Linked DNA regions of Homo sapiens. The protein of the gene in region 1 interacts with the protein of each later gene in a pairwise test. Each region holds a gene or a part of one and is shown on either strand. Other genes may lie near its edges.

Evidence for each region. Proteins that work in one complex are often made in the same cells at the same time.
Region 2: the proteins of DEF6 (region 1) and INTS2 interact in binary tests that used the Homo sapiens proteins (3 or more experiments, as listed by UniProt).
Region 3: the proteins of DEF6 (region 1) and RASAL3 interact in binary tests that used the Homo sapiens proteins (3 or more experiments, as listed by UniProt).

What each region holds. Positions count from the first base shown.
Region 1 is NC_000006.12:35,314,803-35,321,824, forward strand, and holds the end of DEF6 (differentially expressed in FDCP 6 homolog), read left to right. Parts: intron 1-3,088; coding exon 3,089-3,197; intron 3,198-3,370; coding exon 3,371-3,669; intron 3,670-4,721; coding exon 4,722-4,888; intron 4,889-5,016; coding exon 5,017-5,215; intron 5,216-6,081; coding exon 6,082-6,172; intron 6,173-6,384; coding exon 6,385-6,608; 3' UTR 6,609-6,969; downstream 6,970-7,022.
Region 2 is NC_000017.11:61,917,961-61,924,982, reverse strand, and holds part of INTS2 (integrator complex subunit 2), read left to right. Parts: coding exon 1-22; intron 23-3,155; coding exon 3,156-3,258; intron 3,259-5,469; coding exon 5,470-5,583; intron 5,584-7,022. UniProt on the Homo sapiens protein: Component of the integrator complex, a multiprotein complex that terminates RNA polymerase II (Pol II) transcription in the promoter-proximal region of genes.
Region 3 is NC_000019.10:15,461,523-15,469,454, reverse strand, and holds the start of RASAL3 (RAS protein activator like-3), read left to right. Parts: upstream 1-4,910; 5' UTR 4,911-4,950; intron 4,951-5,077; 5' UTR 5,078-5,096; coding exon 5,097-5,424; intron 5,425-7,847; coding exon 7,848-7,932. Other genes in the region: PGLYRP2 (N-acetylmuramoyl-L-alanine amidase isoform 2 precursor), read left to right, coding at 1-87. UniProt on the Homo sapiens protein: Functions as a Ras GTPase-activating protein. Plays an important role in the expansion and functions of natural killer T (NKT) cells in the liver by negatively regulating RAS activity and the down-stream ERK signaling pathway.

The DNA of each region.
Region 1 (7,022 bases):
TGCCTATGCTTTTGAGGTCTTCCACAAAAAATCTCTTTGCCCAGACCAATGTCCTGGAATATTTCTCCAATGTTTTCTTCTAGTAGTTTCATAGTTTCAGGTCTTACATTTAAATGTTTAATCCATTTTTATTTGATTTTTTTATATGGTGAGAGATAGGGGTCTAGTTTCATTCATCTGCATGTGGTTATTTAGTTTTCCCAGAACCATTTATTGAAAGGACTGTTCTTTCCCCATTGTGTGTTCCTGGAGCCTTTGTCAAAAATGAGTTCTCTGTAAATGCATGGATTTATATCTAGGTTATCTATTCTGTTCCATTGGTCTTTGTGTCTCTTTTTATGCCAGTACTATGCTGATTTGGTTACTATAGCTTTGTACTACATTTTGTTTTTTTGTTTTATTTTAGAGACAGGATTTTTCTCTGGTGTCCAGGCTGGAGTGCAGTGGTATGATCATAGGTCACTGCAGCCTCAGTCTCCTTGGGCTCATGGGATCCTCCTGCTTCAGCCTCCTGAATAGCTGGGGCTATAGGTGTGTACCACCGTGGCCAGTTCGTAGTGTATTTTGAAGTCAGGAAATGTGATGCCTCCAGCTTCGTTCTTTTTACTCAGGCTTACTTTGGCTATTTGAGGTCTTTTGTAGTTCCGTATAAATTTTAGGATTTTTTTTCTATATCTATGAAGAATGCCTTTGCTATTTTGACAGAGATTGCACCAAATCTATAAATTGCTTTGGGTAATATTGTTATTTTAACAATATTAATTTTTCCAATACATAGCATGGGATATCTCTCCATTTTTTTGCATCCTCTTCAATTTATTTCATCAGTTTTATAGTTTTTCTTGTATAGATCTTTCACTTTGGTTACATCGATTCTTAGGTATTTTACATTCTTTGTAGCTGTTGGAAATGGGATTGCACTCAACTTCTTTTTCAGATTGTTTGCTGTTAGCGTATACAAATGCTACTGGGTTTTGTATGTTGAATTATCCTGCAACTTTACTGAATTCATTCATCAACTCTAACGGTTTTTTGTTGGAGTCCCTTTTTTTTTTTTTTTTTTTTTTGAGGAGGAGGAGGAGTCTTGCTTTTATCGCCCAGGCTGGAGTGCAATGGCACGATCTCAGCTCACTGCAACCTCCGCCTCCCGAGTTCAAGTGATTCTCCTGCCTCAGCCTCCCAAGTTAGCTGGGATTACAGGCACCTGCCACCACACCTGGCTAATTTTTTTTTTTTTTGTATTTTTAGTAGAGACAGCATTTCACCGTGTTGGCCAGGCTGGTCTCAAACTCCTGACCTCAGATGATCTGCCCACCTCGGCCTCCCAAAGTGCTGGGATTACAGGTATAAGCCACTGTGCCCGGCCTTTTTTTTTTTTTTAAGAGAGAGACAGGATCTCACTGTATTGCCCAGGCTGGTGTCGAACTCCTGGCCTCAAGCAATCCAACCACCTCAGCTTCCCAAAGTGTTAGGATTACAAGTGTAAGCCACCACGCCCCATGGAGTCTTTAGATTTTTCTAAGTAGAAGACCATGCCATCTGCAAACAAGGCTAATCTGACTTCTTCATTTCCAGTTTGGATGCCCTTCATTTCCTTCTCTTGCCTAATTGCTCTGGCCAGAACTCCCAATACTACATGGAATAAAAGTGGTAAAAGTGGGCATCCTTGTCTTGTTCCAGATCTTAGAGGAAAGGCTTTCAATTTTTCTCCATTTATTACAATGTTAGCTGTGAGTTTGTCATAGATAGCGTTTATTATTTTAAGGTATGTTGCCTCTATACCCAATATTTTAGGGCTTTTATAACACGATGTTGAATTTTTTTAGAAAGCTTTTTCAGGGTCTATTGAAATGATCATATATGGTTTTTGCTCTTGGTTCTGTTACTATGATGTGTCATGCATATTGATTTGTGCATGTTGAACCATCCTTGCATCCCTGGGATGAATCCCATCTGATCATGGTGAAAGATCTATACTCACAATATTGTACAACCATCACCACTATCTATTTCCAAAACTTTTTCATCACACCAAACAGAAACTCTGTACCTACCAAGCAATAACTCCTCATACTCCCTGACCCCAGCTCCTAGTATCCTCTATTCTGCTTTCTGTCTCCATGAATTTGCCTTTTCTAGGTATCTTACATAAATAGAATCATAAAATATTTGTCCCTTTGTGTCTGGTTTCTTTTACTTAGAAATGTTTTCAGGCTTCATCTATGTTGTCAAATATATCAGAATTTCATTCCTTTTTAAGGCTGGATAATATCCCTAACAGTGTGTGAGGATCTCAGTTTCTCCATTTCCTTACCAACAGTTGTTTTTCCTTTTAAAAAATTATCATAGCCATCCTAGGATCTGTCTAATTTTGTCACATAAGGTGTTACTGTGGAAAGGAGCACGGATCTACGCAGAAGTCCAAGCCTCATCACTAACAGACTAACAGTGTGAGGTGGACAATCCTGGAGCTCTTAGTGCCTCAGTTTCTTTCTCTGTAAAGTGGAGCTAATAATGCCTGCCTGGCAAAGCTGTATAGGTGGAGTGAAGATAATGATGCATATAAAATACTAGTACAGACTCTAGAATGTGGTAGCTATTATTTTCCACAGAATGTAAACTTAATGGAGGCAGAGATTTGGTCTGTTAGGCACACCTTAGTATCCCAACCCCTGGAGCAGTGAGTGGCACTCAGTAGGCACTCCAAAAACATCTGCGGAATGAATGAATGAACTCTTAACAAGCAGGGCTATGTGGAAGTGAGTTGTCATGGATAGTGAGGACCCTGTTACTGGCAGTGTTCAAGCGTGATCTGCATAAACACTGAGTGGCGATTATGTACTGGGCCCCGTGGAATAATAGCAAGATGGAAACGCACCCACCTAGCCTTCAAAGAGCAAAGGCTACAGAGTTGTGGGGACTTAAGTCCCCCATAACTTATGATGCAAGCCATGCAGGCTCCTGGCAGAGTGGGGTCCCCAGGGAAGATAGCCAGGAGGGCTAGGGGCTTGAGCTGGAGCACCCTTGGGGCAGGTGGGGCCCTGACCCAGTGAGGCCAGCCTGGCTGCGGCCACCTACCCTGTGCCAGGTGCTGCCAGACCGCGACGGAAAGCGCTGCATGTTCTGTGTGAAGACAGCCAACCGCACGTATGAGATGAGCGCCTCAGACACGCGCCAGCGCCAGGAGTGGACAGCTGGTGAGTGCTCGCTAGGTGGCTTGGGTCTGGGTGGTCCTTAGGCGCCTCATCTGTGAAAAGGGGGTGATAATACTTTGTCCAGCGGGAGGTTGGAGAGTGGACTCGGGAAACTCCTAAGGCCCCTTTCGGGCCGTGTGCGAGGATCCTACTGACCCGCTCCCGCTCTTCGGCAGCCATCCAGATGGCGATCCGGCTGCAGGCCGAGGGGAAGACGTCCCTACACAAGGACCTGAAGCAGAAACGGCGCGAGCAGCGGGAGCAGCGGGAGCGGCGCCGGGCGGCCAAGGAAGAGGAGCTGCTGCGGCTGCAGCAGCTGCAGGAGGAGAAGGAGCGGAAGCTGCAGGAGCTGGAGCTGCTGCAGGAGGCGCAGCGGCAGGCCGAGCGGCTGCTGCAGGAGGAGGAGGAACGGCGCCGCAGCCAGCACCGCGAGCTGCAGCAGGCGCTCGAGGGCCAACTGCGCGAGGCGGAGCAGGTGGGGTTAGCTCCCGGCGCCGGGGACGGGACCGGTGGGCTGGGAGGCTGGCCAGGGGCGGAGCGCCGGGGGCGGGGCCTGGGCAGAGGGCGGAGCTCCTGGGTTGAGGGGCGTGCACTGGGGTGGAGCTTGAAATGAGGGATTGTTGGGACAGAGTCCGCGGGTTTGAAAAAGAGATTTGGGATGGGGCTTCCGCCAGGGACAGAACCTGGGGCTAGGAAAGGGGTGTGGGGCGAGGTCCGAGCCCGTGGATGGATGGGGCCTGGTTCGGAGACCTTGGCTGTGGGTTGGGGCTTGGGCAGAAGGAGCCGTTGAAGACCGTGTGATTGGGGATTAGACTGGACCAAGTTTGGACTAGACTTGAACTAAGTTTACAGTGAAACCAGTTTGAGAGGCAAGCGGGACGCGTATGGAGGCGGACTAGGTGTGCAGAGGCAATTAGATTTAGGATTTAAGAAACCTGGATCTGGAGTCAGAAACACGTAGATTCAATCCTAGCTCTGCTTCTTACGAGCCCCGTGATCCCAGGCAAGTTCATTTTACTGAGCCTTATCAGTAAAATGCTAATGCTAATAGAACTTTGCTCACAGAGGTACGGTGAGGATTAAATGAGGAAACACTTGTAGTGTCCAGTAACTTTTTGTTGTAATAATTGTAGTTATAGTCACATCCTTCCTAGCATCAGCCATGATTATAACATATTATTATATATTATAATAATTATTAAGTTAGTGCTAGGAAGGAGATGACCATATTTTTATATCTTATTTAATTATATAATGTTGTTTAATTACATGTTATATAATTATGATTAAGGTTGGTACTAGGAAGGAAATAACTTGAGCCCGTTTCCCCCACGTGGCATCTGTTCACCGACCATTATCTGTTCCAGTCAGGCTCTCAGAAAGGGGTCAGATCAGGAAACCCCAACATGAAGGAGTTCCCCAGACCCTCACCCCTAGGCAGCTTAGCAACATGCCCACCCCCTCCTCCTCCGCCCCCACGTGCCCCTTTTGACCTGGCTCTTGGTCCACCACCTCCCCCCTCCACAGGCCCGGGCCTCCATGCAGGCTGAGATGGAGCTGAAGGAGGAGGAGGCTGCCCGGCAGCGGCAGCGCATCAAGGAGCTGGAGGAGATGCAGCAGCGGTTGCAGGAGGCCCTGCAACTAGAGGTGAAAGCTCGGCGAGATGAAGAATCTGTGCGAATCGCTCAGACCAGGTAGGCCTGAGGAACCTCTTCTGGTTCTCTCACCACCCCTCCTGGAACACACCCCAGTTTTCCTGCTTGCTGTGCACCTGCAAGGTGCCTTGGCACTAGAGGCTACACAGTACACACTCACCCGGCAGACTGCTGGAAGAGGAGGAAGAGAAGCTGAAGCAGTTGATGCAGCTGAAGGAGGAGCAGGAGCGCTACATCGAACGGGCGCAGCAGGAGAAGGAAGAGCTGCAGCAGGAGATGGCACAGCAGAGCCGCTCCCTGCAGCAGGCCCAGCAGCAGCTGGAGGAGGTGCGGCAGAACCGGCAGAGGGCTGACGAGGATGTGGAGGTGAGGCCTGGGGTGGGATGGGGTGGAGGCTGGCAGGGTGAGCTCATTAGGGCACAGGCTCTGGAGCCAGGCTGCCTTCCCTCAAACCCTGGCCCTAGCAGCTGCTGGCTGTGTGACTTTGGACAAATGCCCAAACTTCTTGGAGTTAGTCTCTCACCTGGGAAACTGGTAATAGCGTTGTTATGAAGATTAAATGAGATGATACATGATACTTAGTACGTAGTAAGTGCTGAAGAAACATTTGCTGCTATCTTTGTTCACATCATTATTAATCTGGGGAAAAATTTTTCCTTCTACCCTTCCAAGCCCCTGTCTTGCTATCCTTGTACTTTGGCTCTACTCCTTGGAGCTTTAATCTCCATAAATTCAAACACAGAAATATGGAACATAGAAAGGGAAAATTCCTCCATGATCCCCCCCACCTCACAACCACTGCTAATGGCTCCGTGAAATGTTGAACAGAGGTTCTTGGATTAGGTGCTGGAAAGGTGGTGTAGTGCAGTGGCTTAGAGCTCAAGTGTATCCCTGGGCAAGTCACTTAACCTCTTTTGAACTTTTTTGTTGTTAACTTCTGCTCTGGAAGTTAAATAAGATAATAAATATGCTTAGCACATCTTAGCTGCTCAATAAACGGAAACTATTATTATGGTTACATTTTATCTTTTGGAAGTCCATGAGTCCCATGAAATTGGAGGCAAACTCTATTCATGTATGTATTAATAACTCTATGAGCATATATGGTTTTTCTCTGGGGAGATGATCAGTAGTCTTGGTCAGATTTTAAGCAGCCTGCGAACCTGAAAAGATCAAGACTCCATGCCATGGATGATGGTTCTGATCACTCCCCACTGGCCCTGTCCCCACAGGCTGCCCAGAGAAAACTGCGCCAGGCCAGCACCAACGTGAAACACTGGAATGTCCAGATGAACCGGCTGATGCATCCAATTGAGCCTGGAGGTGAGAAGGAATAGACTCTGGAGCTTTCCCTGGAGCTGGGAGGGAGAAAGGAGGGAGAAAGGTCTCCCTGGGAGACCTCCAGATCTCCCAGGGCCAGCAAAAGCAGGACTGGCAGTCAGGAGGCTCCCCTCTCCTCTGAGGGCTGAGGCAAGGCCCCTCGCCTCTCACCTTTGCATGCCTTTCTCCTTACTTGCCTGCCTTCTCTCTGCCAGATAAGCGTCCGGTCACCAGCAGCTCCTTCTCAGGCTTCCAGCCCCCTCTGCTTGCCCACCGTGACTCCTCCCTAAAGCGCCTGACCCGCTGGGGATCCCAGGGCAACAGGACCCCCTCGCCCAACAGCAATGAGCAGCAGAAGTCCCTCAATGGTGGGGATGAGGCTCCTGCCCCGGCTTCCACCCCTCAGGAAGATAAACTGGATCCAGCACCAGAAAATTAGCCTCTCTTAGCCCCTTGTTCTTCCCAATGTCATATCCACCAGGACCTGGCCACAGCTGGCCTGTGGGTGATCCCAGCTCTTACTAGGAGAGGGAGCTGAGGTCCTGGTGCCAGGGGCCCAGGCCCTCCAACCATAAACAGTCCAGGATGGAACCTGGTTCACCCTTCATACCAGCTCCAAGCCCCAGACCATGGGAGCTGTCTGGGATGTTGATCCTTGAGAACTTGGCCCTGTGCTTTAGACCCAAGGACCCGATTCTTGGGCTAGGAAAGAGAGAACAAGCAAGCCGGGGCTACCTGCCCCCAGGTGGCCACCAAGTTGTGGAAGCACATTTCTAAATAAAAACTGCTCTTAGAATGAATTATTGGCTCAGGTCTGTCCATCTCTCCTGCCATTTCCTCCCTTCCTCCCTCA
Region 2 (7,022 bases), on another chromosome or scaffold:
ACTGTTGGCAATTATGAACAAGGTGCATTTCTTTTAACCACAGCTCAAAGTATGCATGATTTGATGTCTATGTATAGGGAGGTAGACAGAAAAAGAGACAAGAAGTCAGGCAGGTTGAATTCTCCTCTACTCTTATTTTGTTCTTTTTTTTTGGAGACGGAGTTTCATTCTTATTGCCCAAGCTGGAATGCAGTGGTGTGATCTCAGCTCACTGTAATCTCTGTCTCCCAGATTCAAACGGTTCTCCTGCCTCAGCTTCATGAGTAGCTGGGATTACAGGTGCCCGCCACCACGCCCAGCTAATTTTTTGTATTTTTAGTAGAAATGGGGTTTCACCATGTTGACCAGGCTGGCCAGGCTGGTCTCGAACTCCTGAACTCAGGTGATCCACCCGCCTCAGCCTCCCAAAGTGTTGGGATTACAGGCATGGGTCACCGTGCCCGGCCTTCTCTACTTTTATTTCTATATATTTGTTTTCCTTTCAAAGCCTGAAAGGATATTATAAGTCTGCCTTAAAGTCCTTCTCTTAATTATCATTTTCTCTCATTTATACTTGTTCTGCATTTTCTATGAGAGGGATTTTTTTCCGTATGGAATCCATACACAGTGGCTTCTTGACATTTAGAAAGGGATTTATCTCAAGGCTTGTACAGATTATCAAATTTATTAGCAGATAATACCTTTATGGGATACAATTTCTCCCATAAAGTGTAATGAAGTAACATTTTCAATAACTGAATGTGAATAACTGAAAAATGTATGTGATTCATTTAGACACTGGATGAGCAGTAACAGCCTCATATATGACAGCAGAGGGGAGTATCAATGCTGAATTGAATGTAGGATGATTGGCTAGTCTCAATCACTAAATGACCAAAGTGCTTCTTTACACTAATGAAAGCTATTCAAGTTATCTTCTTTGTAAAATTATAGATTACTTAGGTCATAGACCTTTGGGTAATATAGTTAATTGAAACTCTGAATTTAAAATTTTTGAATGTCAAAGTTCTATCATATAAATAACTAAATTAGCTGGGCGTGGTGGTGCACGCCTGTAATCCCAGCACTTTGGGAGGCCGAGGTGGGCGGATCACCTGAGGTTGGGAGTTCAAGACCAGCCTGACCAACATGGAGAAACCCCGTTTCTACTAAAAAATACAAAATTAGCCAGGAGTGGTGGTGCATGCCTGTAAAAGAATTGCTTGAACCTGGGAGGTGGAGGTTGTGGTGAGCCGAGATTGTGCCATTGCACTCCAGCCTAGGCAACAAGAGTAAAACTGCCTCAAAAACAACAACCACCACCACCACAAAAACCCACTAAATTAGATCTTTATGTTTATTTACTGTTATAATTTTGGGGAGTCAGTTAATTTATAGTAAATAAAGTTTAGTTTTATAAATTGTGGACAAAAAGAGAAAGGACTAAATTCTGTTTTCATAGAAAATACTGGTAGAGAGGATTTTGGTGAGTTTTAGATAGTTTTTTTTTTTTTTTTTTTTTTTTTGGAGACAGAGTCTCACTCTGTCGCCCAGGCTGGAGTGCAGTGGCACAATCTCGGCTCACTGCAAGCTCCGCCTCCCGGGTTCACACCATTCTCCTGTCTCAGCCTCCCGAGTAGCTGGGACTACAGGTGCCCGCCACCATGCCTGGCTAATCTTTTGTATTTTTAGTAGAGACGGGGTTTCACCGTGTTAGCCAGGATGGTCTCGATCTCCTGATCTCGTGATCCGCCCTCCTTGGCCTCCCAAAGTGCTGGGATTACAGGCACGAGCCACTGCGCCCGGCCGAGTTTTAGACAGTTTTTAAGGTATGTTAAAAAATTTTTCTAAAATTTCCATCACCAATTATAATTTCCTTCTCTTTTTTACTATTTTGATACTTTTATTTATTTTTGTTTGTTTTTTTGAGACAGAGTTTCGCTCTTGTTGCCCAGGTTGGAGTGCAATGGTGTGATCTTGCTCACTGCAACCTTTGCCTCCTGGGTTAAAGCGATTCTCCTGCCTCAGCCTCCTGAGTAGCTAGAATTACAGGCACCCGCCACCATGCCTGCTAATTTTTGTATTTTTAGTAGAGACGGGGTTTCACCATGTTAGCCAGGCTGGTCTCGAACTCCTGACCTCAGGTGATCCTCCCACCTCGGCCTCCCAAAGTTCTGAGATTACAGGCATGAGCCACCATGCCCAGCCTATTTTGATACTTTTAAATTTCAGCCAAGAGTTTTCCTTCATCTTTTCCGTAATACCTCACTTGGTGACTCTAATAAATAAGTGACCTTTCTCCTCTGGGAGATTTCCAATTTTTTAGTTTGGCACTCTTCATTATATAGGAAATATGGTTATGAAACTATTGTGCAGAATTTCCAAAAAGCTTAGTAGATTTTGTTATCTAAACTTTAATTCTTTGTTTTTCCAACAGTTTATTCAGAATTGAACACGTATATATATATATATATATATATATATATATATATGTTTGTTTGTTTTCTTTTTTCTTTTTCTTTTTTTTTTTTTTTTTGAGACGGAGTCTCATTCTGTCTCCCAGTGTGGAGTGCAGTGGTGCTATCTCGGCTCACTGCAGCCTCCACCTCCCGGGTTCAAGCGATTCTCCTGCCTCAGCCTCCTGAGTAGCTAAGATTACAGATGGCCACCATGCTTGGCTAATTTTTATATTTTTAGTAGAGACAGGGTTTCACCATGTTGGCCAGGCTGGTCTCGAACTCCTGACCTCAGTTGATCCACCCATCTTGGCCTTCCAAAGTGCTGGGATTACAGGCGTCAGCCACTGCACCTGGCCATGAATTTATATTTGTTAAACTGCTTTAGGTTGACTGTTCTTGGCTTTTTTAAAGCAGTTTATGTAGGCTGCATTTGTAGTTCATTTCTTTGGCTTGCCTTATCCTTTAATTCCAGTTGTCTCCAAATATTTAGATAGAAATCAGTTCTTGAGATTGATACTGCTATATCTGAATAATAATTAACATGACTGCTGTGTGTGGTTAAATTGGTTGAAATTGATTGAATACTGCATATTCTGCTGTGGTATATTAGTGATACATTAAGAGACATAATCTGTGAGCTCAAGAAATAATTATAAAAATAGGGATTTAATTATCTGAAATTAATAGAGTTTATATCTTTTTTTTTTCTTTTTTAAGGTGTCTGAGTCCAACGGAGAATTTTTTTTCAAGTCTTCTGAACTTTTTGAGAGTCCAGTATATTTGGAGGAAGCTGCAGATGTACTTTGTATTTTACAAGCAGGTACTGTACTGAGTGCTAAGATGGATTTCATATATAGTTTCTTGTTAAATGATACTGTGTAACTTCTTAGCCTGGTATGCTGTGTTATTTTAGGGATCATATAACAAACATGTTATGTGATTTTAAGTCAAAAGTGACTAATAGTTGGACAATGATTAAGTAAATTATATTATTTTCATAGTGTGACATATTATGCAGACATTAACATGGTATCTTTGATTTAATGACTTTAATGCTCGTTAATGATTTTGGAAAATGTTTACAATATGTTAAGTGAAAAAAGCAAAGGGCAAAGTGTTAAGTAGACTATAATCCCAGTTTTGTTAAAAGTTCAAGAACAATACCCTTGATGAATTAAAATAAAATACTTATTTTTTTTTAGAGACAGAGTCTTGCTCTGTTGCTCAGGCTGGAGTACAGTGGCAGGATCATAGCCCACTGGCTTGAATTCCTGGACTCAAGGGATCCTCCCACTTCAGCCTTCTGAGTAGCTGGGACTACAGGCCTGTGAAAACATTTTTTATTAACTTTGAATTCTGGGATTAGGGCAGATTTTAATTTTCTTCTTCGTACCTTTTTGTATTTTCCAGATTGTATATAATAGGTGTGAATGATAGAAATAAAAGAGGACAGAAAAATGTAAAGAAGGCTGTCGCTCATGCCTGTAATCCCAGCACTTTGGGAGGCCGAGGCAGGAGGATCACTTGAGCTCAAGAGTTCAAGACCAGTCTGGGCAACATAGTGAGACCTTGTCTCTACCAAAATGAAAAAAATTAGCCTAGTGTGGTGGTGTATACCTGTAGTCCCAGCTGCATGGGAAGCTGAGGCAGGAGGATGGCTTGAGCCTGGGAGATTGAGGCTGTAGTGAGCCATGATTGTGCCATTGCACTCTGTCCAGAGTGAGACCTTGTCTTTTTTTTTTGAGATGGAGTCTCACTCTGTCACCCAGGCTGGAGTGCAGTGGTGTGATCTCGGCTCACTGCAACCTCCGCCTCCGGGGTTCAAGTGATTCTCCTTCCTTAGCCTCCTGAGTAGCTGGGATTACAGGCATGCGGCACCATGCCCAGCTAATTTTGTATTTTTAGTGGCGACGAGGTTTCACCATGTTGGCCAGGCTGGTCTCGAATTCTTAACCTTGTGATCTGCCTGCCTCAGCTTCCCAAAATGCTGGGATTATAGGCATAAGCCACTGTGCCTGGCTGCAGACCTTTTCTTAAAAAAAAAAAAAAAAAAAAAAAGTATAGGCCAGGCACGGTGGCTCACGCCTGTAATCCCAGCATTTTGGGAGGCCGAGGTGGGTGGATCACCTGAGGTCAGGAGTTGGAGACCAGCCAGGTCAACATGGTGAAACCCTGTCTCTACTAAAAATACAAAAATTAGCCTGGTGTGGTGGCAGGCTTCTGTAATCCCAGGTATTCGGGCGGCTGAGGCAGGAGAATCGCTTGAACTCTGGAGGCGGAGGTTGCGGTGAGCTGAGATTGCGCCATTGCATTCCAGCCTGGGGGACAAAAGCGAGACTTCGTCGCAAAAAAAAAAAAAAAAAAGCAAATAAGATTTTCGTGAAAATAACTCTTTAGACCAGTTCTATAAAATAAAATTTCCTGTACTGTTCTATGCTATGCTGTCCAGTGTTCTTTGTGGCTGTGGATTACTTGAAATGTGGCTAGTGTGATTGAGGAACTGAACTGTTTTTAATATAAGTATCCTTATGTTGCTAGTGGGTATCCTACTGGACAGCTTGGTTCTAGACTATGAAAAGAAAGTACTTTATTTTAGATGACATTTGTGAAATGTCAAAAGATATTTAATAATACAATGAAATGTCATTTTTGGTTGGGCATGGTGGCTCATGCCTGTAATTCTAGGAGTTTAGGAGGCTGAGGCAGGAGGATTGCTTGAGCCCAGGAGGTTGAGGCTGCAGTGAGCTATAATCACACCACTGCACTGTAGCCTGGGCAACAAAGCAAGACCCTGTCTTAAAGAAGAAAAAAAGAAATATCACTCTTTAACACTGGGTCCAGGCATGGTGGCTTATGCCTGTAATCTTAGCACTTTGGGAGGCTGAGGCTGGAGGATCACTTGAGGCCAAAGTTTGAGACCCACCTGGGCAACACAGTGAGATTCAGTCTCCACAGAAAATAAAAAAAATTAGCTGGGTGTGGTGGAGTGCACCTGTTAACAAAGACTAACACTGACTTTGTTTTCTTGTAGAGCTCCCTTCCTTGCTCCCTATAGTTGATGTAGCTGAAGCTTTGCTACATGTTAGAAATGGTGCCTGGTTCTTGTGTCTCTTGGTGGCCAATGTTCCTGATAGTTTTAATGAAGGTAAATATGATTCTAATATGGTATATTGAAAAGACTTGCTTGGACATGTACAGGACCTATCTTTTTGACCTAAGAAGAAACATTAATGGGATTTTATTTGAGATTTTATCTTTTGAAAGTTTGTTAGTATGTATAAAGAAATATTGAGTTCACAAATTGTATTGAGTTTAAAGATCAGGCTGGGCGCAGTGGCTCACACCTGTAATCCCAGCACTTTGGGAGGCCGAGGCGGGCAGATCACAAGGTCAGAAGTTTGAGACCAGCCTGGCCACTATGGTGAAACCCCATCTCTACTAAAAATACAAAAATTAGCTGGATGTGGTGGTGGGTGCCTGTAGTCCCAGCTACTGGGGAGGCTGAGGCAGAAGAATCGCTTGAACCTGGGAGGTGGAGGTTGCAGTGAGTCGAGATCGCACCACTGCACTCCGGCCTGGGCGACAGGGCGAGACTCCGTCTCAAAAAAAAAAAAAAAAAAACCCCAAGGAACTAGAAGATGTAATATCTATAATCAGGGATCAAAGAAGATACATGTATCAGTGAAATATCAAGAGAGCAATACGGGATATGTATAATGAGAAATGCTAGGAATCAGACCTTTGTTTTTTAGCCCTACTGCTGTCAGTTTACAGAGAAGTATAAAGTAGAAATTGAGAAAAATCGACTACATTTTTTCACCTCTATTTAAAACTTACAGTGATTGAAGGTTGTTGTTTGGGTATGAGTGATATAAAAATAAAAACATTTTGTTGAGCAAGGTAGTTTGTGAATTAGGAGCCTGGGAGGAAAAAGTACTGGAGTTATAATTCCTGATTTTGTCATTCACTTATTGTGTGAGCTCTATCAAAATACTTCTCATCTGGCTGGGCACGGTGGCTCATGCCTGTAATCCCAGCACTTGGGGAGGCCGAGGTGGGTGCATCATTTCAGGCCAGGAGTTTGAGACCAGCCTGGCCAACATAGTGAAACCCCGTCTCTACTAAAAATACAAAAATTAGCTGGGCTTGGTGGTGGATGCCTGTAATCTCAGCTACTCAGGAGGCTGAGACAGGAGAATTGCTTCAATCTGTGAGGTGGAGGTTGCAGCGAGCCGATATGTGCCACTGCACTCCAGCCTGGGCAACAGAGTGAGACTCTGTCTTAAACAAACAAACAAACCAAAATACTTCTCATCTGTAAAATGGAGATATTGATAGTGTAATAGTTCCCTGACTTTTTTAAGAGATTTATTGAATATCAGATGATATGTAAAAACTCTTTGTAAACTGTGTCCTTGCCGATTTTTTGTCAACTTGTTCTGTCAATTACTGAGAGAGGAGTTTTGATGTCTCCAGACATAATTGTGGATTTGCCTATTTCTTCTTTTTGTTCTGTCAGTTTTTGCTTCATGTATTTCAAAGCTCTTTTGTTGGGTTTATATGCATTTAGGATGATTATATCTT
Region 3 (7,932 bases), on another chromosome or scaffold:
GGCAACATCCCTGATCCTGTGACTTCTGCCTATGCAGCCTCAGCTCAGCCCCAGACCCAGCCAGCCTGTCCTTTCCCCAGCTCCTAATACCTCTACCTTTCCAGCCAAGGCATGGACCCTGACACCTGCCAACAGCCCCTCTGCCCTCACAACCTCAGCCTGGCCTTCATGACTTCTCTACCCAAGTCACAACCTGTCAGGCTGCACCACCTCATCCTGGCCCGCCGAACCTTGACCTCACCCCTGCCCCTACCCGAAGGCCCTCTGTCCACACAACATGAACCTAGGCTGTGACCTTTTGCCTTCACAACCTCTGTCCAGTCCTTAATCCTGTGTTGCAATTCTCTGTCCAGACAATCTCAACTCTGAGGTTGCTTGTTTCGTCCCTGACTCCTTAACCCCTGATGACAACTCTTATGCCAGCACAACTTTGACCTGATGACCTCATCCCAGCCCTTGATCGCCATCACTAAAACAATTTTAGAATCACACCTGGACAATCTCGTGCTACCTACATACTGCCACTCCATTTCATTAAGCTATTGACTAGCACATCCATCTCGGCCTATAGTTGGCTTTGTCCTCACTCTCTCACTTTGGGCCACTGTCCCCTCCCTGATCCAGGGTTCCACCACCAGGAGGGCAGACCCAGCCACATACCACAACCACCCCCAAGCCTCACACTCCCTTGTCTTTTTCCAGACTGTTAAGCCAAGACCTGCCAGGAGTGTCTCTAAGAGATCCAGGAGGGAGCCACCCCCAAGGACCCTGCCAGCCACAGACCTCCAATAAAGACAGCATGGAAACAAAGTCTCTGTTCATGCATCATCATGCATTGTCTTAGTTTGGGTCTTCCCAAAAGCAGACCTTAAGACAATAATTCCAGTACAAGTAGTTTATTGAGAGGAGATCCCAGGGCAGGGCACGGCAGCTCACATCTGTAATCCCAGCACTTTGGGAGGCTGAGGCGAGGGGATCACCTGAGCTCAGGAGTTCGAAAACAACCTGGGCAATAGAGTGAAATCTCATCTCTGCAAAAAAAAATTTTCAAATTATCCAGGCATAGCCAGGCACGGTGGCTCATGCCTGTAATCCCAGCATTTTGGGATGCTGAGGAGGGTGGATCGCCTGAGCTCAGGAGTTCAAGACCAGCCTGGCCAACATGACAAAACCCCGTCTCTAACAAAAATACAAAAAATTAGCCAGGAGTGGTGCCACACACTTGAGGTAGGAGGATCACTTGGGCCTAGGAGGCAGAGGTTGCCGTGAGCTGAAATCACACCACTGCACTCCAGCCTGGGAGACAGAGCAAGACCCTGTCTCAAAAAAAGAAAAAATTATCCAGGTACAATGTTGTGTGCCTGCAGTCCCAGCTACTCCGGAGGCTGAGGTGGGAGGATTGCTTGGGCTGGGAGGTCGAGGCTGCAGTGAACCATGATTGCGTCACTGTACAGCAGCCTGGAGAAGAGAGTGAGAGCTTGTCTCAAAGAAAAAAAAAGAAAGAAAGGAAGAAAGAAAGAACGAAAGAAAGAGGAAAGAAGGGAGAAAGGGAGGAAGGGAGGAAGGAAGGAAGGAAGGAAGGAAGGAAGGAAGGAAGGAAGGAAGGAAGGAAGGAAAAAAAAAAAAAGAAAAAGAAAAAATAGAGAGGTGAACAACCCAGGTACCGATGCAGGGAACTGGAGGCAGCCAGGGAATAATGTGTTTTCAAGCAAGTTTCCACTGTAGGCAAGAGAGCTCAGTCTCACTTCGAAGCCCTGAGGGAGAGCATAGGACACATACCTGAGTCATCCCACACAAGGGTTGAGGGAGCTGGGGTATTTATACACTAATTCCCACCAGTTATTATGTGAGGGCTGCTCTCAGGGACATGTTAATTCACTGGCACTTTTGGAATGCTTGTTACACAGACATAGTGGACTCCATCTGCTAGATACAAATGGCTGCAAATGTCACCTCCTCAGGGAAGTCCTCCCTGATTTTTCCAGCTCAAAGAGTGGCATTTTTGCTCAGCATTCACTGCAGCCTATTTCCTTCTAGGTCCTCCTTACCAGCTAGAAATGTCTCATGTATGAGTTTAGGATCTTATCTACCTCCATCATCTGTGAGCTCCAGGAAGGCAGAAACCAAGTTTGGTTAGTTCTCTGCGGCCTCTCCAGCACCTAGCATGTAATAGGCACTCGGGAAACATTTGTTGACTAGACAAAGGCTTACATGAATCTTTTGAAACTGATATTATCGTCTTGTACAAATAAGGAAAACGAGGCTCAGAGAGAGGAAATGACTTGTCTGAGGTCACACAGAGGGAGAGGGGCCAGCTGGTACTCGGCTCCTGGACCGGATTTATGCTGACTCATTTATTCCTCAGAATGGCATTTACTTACCTCTGGCTTTCAAGTAAACATCTGTGGAAGCCTAACAGAGATACAAGAAAGTGCTCCCAAGGGCACAGCTTGATGAATTTTCACAACAGCACACAGCCATGTAACCAGGACCCAGCTCAAGAAATAGAACATGTTAAGCCAAGCGTGGTGGCACACATCTGCAGTCCCAGCCACTACAGAGGCTGAAGCAGGAGGACTGCCTGAGCCCAGGAGTAGGAGACCAGCCTGGGCAACATAGTGAGACCCTGTCTCTTTACAAAAAAAAAAAAATTAAAATTAGCCAGGCATGGTGGCATGCACCTGCAGTCCCAGCTACTCAGGAGGCTGAGGCAGGAGGATTGCCTGAGCCCAGGAATTCAAGGTTGCAGTGACCCACAATCATGCCTGGGAATAGCCACTGTACTCCTGCCTGGGTGACAGAACAAGGCTTCGTCTCTCTGGGCACAGAGGCTGATGCTATTCCTGTATTCCCAGCACTTTGGGAGGCTGAGGCATGAGGATTGCTTGAGCCCAGGAGTTCAAGACAAGCATGGGCAACATAGTGAGGCCCCATCTCTACAAAAAACAAACAAACAAAAAGTTAAAAATTAGTCAGGTAGCATGCACCTGTAGTCCCAGCTACTCGAGAGCCTGAGGTAGGAGGATCGCTTGAGCCCAGGAGGTTGAGAATGCAGTGAGCTGTGATTGTGCCACTGCACTCCAGCTTGGCCAACAGAGCAAGACCCTGTCTCAAAAAAAAATCTTATTAAAAAAAAAAGAACATGCTAAATTTGTGTTATATGAATTTTACCTCAATTAAAAAAAAAATAGGCCAGGCATGGTAGCATGTGCCTATTATCCCAGCTACTTAGGGGGCTGAGGTGGGAGGATCACTTGAGGCCAGGAGTTCAAGAACAGCCTGGGCAACAAAGCAAGACCCTCATCTCAACAACAACAAAAAAATTGTTTTTAATAAGCCAGGTGTGGTGGCATGCAGCTGTAGTCCCAGCTACTCAGGAGGCTAAGGCGAGAGGATCTCTTGAGCCCAGGAGTTAGAGGTTACAGAGAGCTATGATGGCACCACTGCACTCCAGCCTGGATGACAGACCTCATCTACAAAAAATAATAATATTCATATTATGTATAATGTAATATTATTTATATTACTATGTAATATAAATATTATATTTTTATTTTATGAGATCTATATTATTTTTATAGACCTCATTTATAAATAATAATAATAATAAGGGCCGGGCACGGTGGCTTACGCCTATAATACCAGCACTTTGGGAGGCCAAGGCGGGCAGATCATTTCAGGTCAGGAGTTCAAGACCAGCCTGACCAACATGGTGAAACCCCGTCTCTACTAAAAATACAAAAAAATTAGGCAGGCATGGTGGTGAATACCTGTAGTCCCAGCTACTCAGGAGGCTGAGTAGGGAGAATCACTTGAATCCGGGAGGCAGAGATTGCAGTGAGCCAAGATCGTGCCACTGCACACCAGCCTGGGAGACAGAGCGAAACTCCTTCTCGATAAATAAATCAATTAATAATAATAAGAGTAATAATAAATCTTGCCATCTTCCAGAAGCCCCCCTTGTACCCTCTTCCCAGCCACCAGTGCCTCCAAAAGAAACTGATACCCTGCTTGTTAGACATGGTTTTGCCTGCTTTAGGACTTTATGTAAATGGAATCACAAAGTGTATACTCTTCATTGTTTTGGGGTTTTTAAATTTATTTATTATTGCTTTTTAGAGATGGGGTCTCCCGAGGGCAGGGAGGGGAAAAAGAAAAAAAAAAGTTAGATATGAGGTCTCCCTATGTCACCCAGACTGGAGTGCACTGCCTATTCACAGGCATGATCACAGCTCACTGCAGCCTCGAACTCCTGGCCTCAAGCGATCCTCCTCCCTCAGCCTCCTGAATAGCTCAGATTACTGGCATTTTATGGCTTTGGTTTTGGTTTTGGCTCAACATTGTTTGTGATTCACCCAAGTTAAATCATTCTTTAGTTTGTTCTCACTGCTGTATGATATTCTGCTGTGCGAAGAGATCACAATTTATTCCTTCTCCCACTAATGGGTACTTAGGCTGCTTCCAATGTGGGGCTATTATGCATTGTGCTGGGGGGGCATATCTATTGGACGTCTACCTAGCAATGGAATTGCTGAGTCAGAGAAGATCCAGCTAGTAGTGTTAGTAGATCCTGCCAAACCGTTTCCCAACATGAGTGAATGGGTCTACACTCCGGCCAACTGTGGATTAGAGTTCTAGGTGCTTTGTATTCTCGCCAGCATTTGTTCAGCCTGTACTCATTTTGCAGAGAAGGCAACGGAGGCTCAGAGAGAGGGGCAAGTGCTGCCTCCCCGTCAGGGAGGCAGTCTGGGTCCTTCTTGCTAGAAGCCTGGTAACCCACCTCCTCTCTTCTCCTCCCTCGAACCTCCAGCAACCTGCCCGCACTGTGCCCTCCCAGCCTGGCTGTGGGGTGGGGTGGGACAGAGAGGGTCACGTGGAGTTGGGTTCCGAGGGAGGAAGCCAGGCGGGGTGCAGACGGCTGCTGATTCTGGGGCTGGTCAGGAAACCAAGGTAAGGGAGGGAGTGGAGGTGGGGGCAGGGGGATTCCTGGAGGCAGAGCTGAGGGTGGGGAGGGGGCCGAGATGAGGGCAGTATGTGGACAGACACTGGGCACTACTGTCACTCTCTCGTCCCCCAGGAGACCCCCCCCCCCAACCATGGACCCACCGTCGCCAAGCCGGACCTCCCAAACCCAGCCCACAGCCACCTCTCCGCTGACTTCCTACCGCTGGCACACAGGGGGCGGTGGGGAGAAGGCGGCTGGAGGGTTCCGCTGGGGCCGCTTTGCTGGCTGGGGCAGGGCCCTGAGCCACCAGGAGCCCATGGTCAGCACCCAGCCAGCCCCTCGCTCGATATTCCGTCGGGTCCTATCTGCGCCTCCCAAGGAGTCACGGACCAGTCGCCTTCGACTCTCCAAGGCCCTCTGGGGGAGGCATAAGAACCCACCGCCGGAGCCAGACCCGGAGCCGGAGCAGGAGGCCCCAGGTACATGGTTCCCCCACCCTGAGCTTGGGCCGGGCTGGGAAGCCGGATGCTTGGGTTTTGTCTGCCTCCGGAGCATCAACCATACAGACACAGGAAGTTGTGGGGAGTGCAAAAGCCCAGCAGGAAGCCGCTGGGGCCCAGCTACCCTGTTCCCTCTTTCCCCCTAAAGAGGGTAGGAGGAGTTGCCGGGGTCCTGTGGGCAGAGGGTCCATCTGAGGAAGGAACAGTGAATGTAAACCCGTGATAGTATTGTCCAGAGGCTAAACGGCTCTTGGCCCCAACGGGTCTCTCCTTCAATGGCTCAGGCCCATCCTTTCCTACCTGGATATCCATCTTCAGCCTGCCTCCTACTCTCCTACCTTCTAGCTTCCGTGTCTTTGTTCTGAGCCCTTAAGCCTCAGCCTCTCCATCAGTTCAGTGAGAATAATGATCTCCATTTTGGAGAGTATATAATTTTATTTGCTCATATTCATTCATTTATTCAAGCAGAGGTTTGTTGAGCTTCTATTGTATGTGCCAGGCCCTGATTTAGGCACTGAGGACACACTAGTGAAAGAGACAGATGACCCTCCCTGCCCCATGGAGCTCACAGTGTAGTGGAATTGACAGGAAATCCATCAACAAGAAAATGACAGATGGGCCAGGCATGATGGCTCACACCTGTAATCCCAGCACTTTGGGAGGCCAAGGTGGGTGGATCACCTGAGCTCAGGAGTTCGAGACCAGCCTGGCCAACATGGCAAAACCCTGTTTCTACTAAAAATACAAAAAAAAAAAAGTATCTAGGCATGGTGGCACATACCTGTACTCCCAGCTACTCAGGAGGCTGAGGCAGGATAATCGCTTGAACCCGGGAGGTGGAGGTTGCAGTGAGCTGAGATTGCACTACTGCACTCCCGCCTGGGCGACAGAGGGAGACTCCATCTCAATGGAAGAAAAAAAAAAAAAAGAAAGAAAAAAAATGACAGATGGTGCTAAGTGTCACACAGGGGGATCTAGAAGAGTAATGGATATCACAAGAATTAGGGCTCAGGAATGTAACACTAGCCTAGGGCCCAGCATTTTTTTTATTTTTTTTTTGAGATGGAGTCTCGCTCTGTTGCCCAGGCTGGAGTGCAGTGGCGCGATCTCGGCTCACCGCAAGCTCCGCCTCCTGGGTTCACGCCATTCTCCTGCCTCAGCCTCCTGAGCAGCTGGGACTACAGGAACCCGCCACCATGCCCAGCTAATTGTTGTATTTCTAGTAGAGACAGGGTTTCACTGTGTTAACCAGAATGGTCTCGATCTCCTGACCTCATGATCCGCCCGCCTCAGCCTCCCAAAGTGCTGGGATTACAGGCGTGAGCCACCGCGCCCGGCCCCAGGCCCAACATATTTTAAGTGATCCGTTAATAAGCGGGAGTTATCATTTATTGCTCCTGGTGGTAAAAACAAGGGAACAGACAGGCAATCTGGGAGGGCTAATTCAGCCCTCCTATTTCCTGGAAGCTCATTTAATTCTCACTGCTTATATTCCCATTTTGTTTTTGTTTTTGTTTTTGTTTTGAGACACAGTCTCACTTCCTTGCCCAGGCTGGAGTGCAGTGGCGGAATCTCAGCTCACTGCAACCTCTGCCTCCCAAGTTCAAGAGATTCTCCTGCCTCAGCCTCCTGAGTAACTGGGATTACAGGCATGTGCCACCACGCCTGGCTAATTTTGTATTTTTAGTAGAGACGGGGTTTCTCCATGTTGGTCAGGCTGGTTTTGAACTCCCAGCCTCAGATGATCCACCCGCCTAGGCCTCCCAAAGTGCTAGGATTACAGGTGTGAGCCACAGAGCCCAGGCACATCAGGCTATTTTTTAAAGACAGGGTCTTGTTATGTTGCCCAGGCTGGTCTCAAACTCCTGGTCTCAAGCAATCTGCCCCACCTCGGCCTCCCAAATGTTGGGATTACAGGCATGAGCCACCTTGCCCAGCCCCTGTCCTGTTTTTTAACCTCTTGGACCCACATAATGTCTTGGTTAAGAGAAGAATGCAAAAAAAACAAAAAAACAAAAAAAGAGAGAGAGAGAAGAATGCTTGTGACTGAAGCCCAGCCCAACCACTCACAAACTGTGTGACCCTGAGCAAGTCACTCAACCTCTCTGAGCCTGTTATCATAGCCCTTTGAATGGCTTTTGGAGGATTCAATGCAAGAAGGTGTGTGGAGTGGTATACAGGGTACTGGGCACATGGTAGGTGAGTTGTGTCTGCTACCCATGGTTAGTGGGGACAAGGCCCAGACAGCGATGAAAGCTTGCCCAAGGTCATACAGTCTGATACGGCTGCTGGGGTGGGGGGCACCTAGGAGGGAACCCACCATGAGCCTTCGGGAATGGAAAGGGTAGCCTGAGGGAGAGAAAACGTCTCTTAAGTCCCCCAGTGCCTCCTCTTCTTCCCAGAGCTGGAGCCGGAGCCAGAGCTGGAGCCCCCTACCCCACAGATCCCTGAGGCCCCCACACCCAACGTGCCTGTCTGGGACATTGG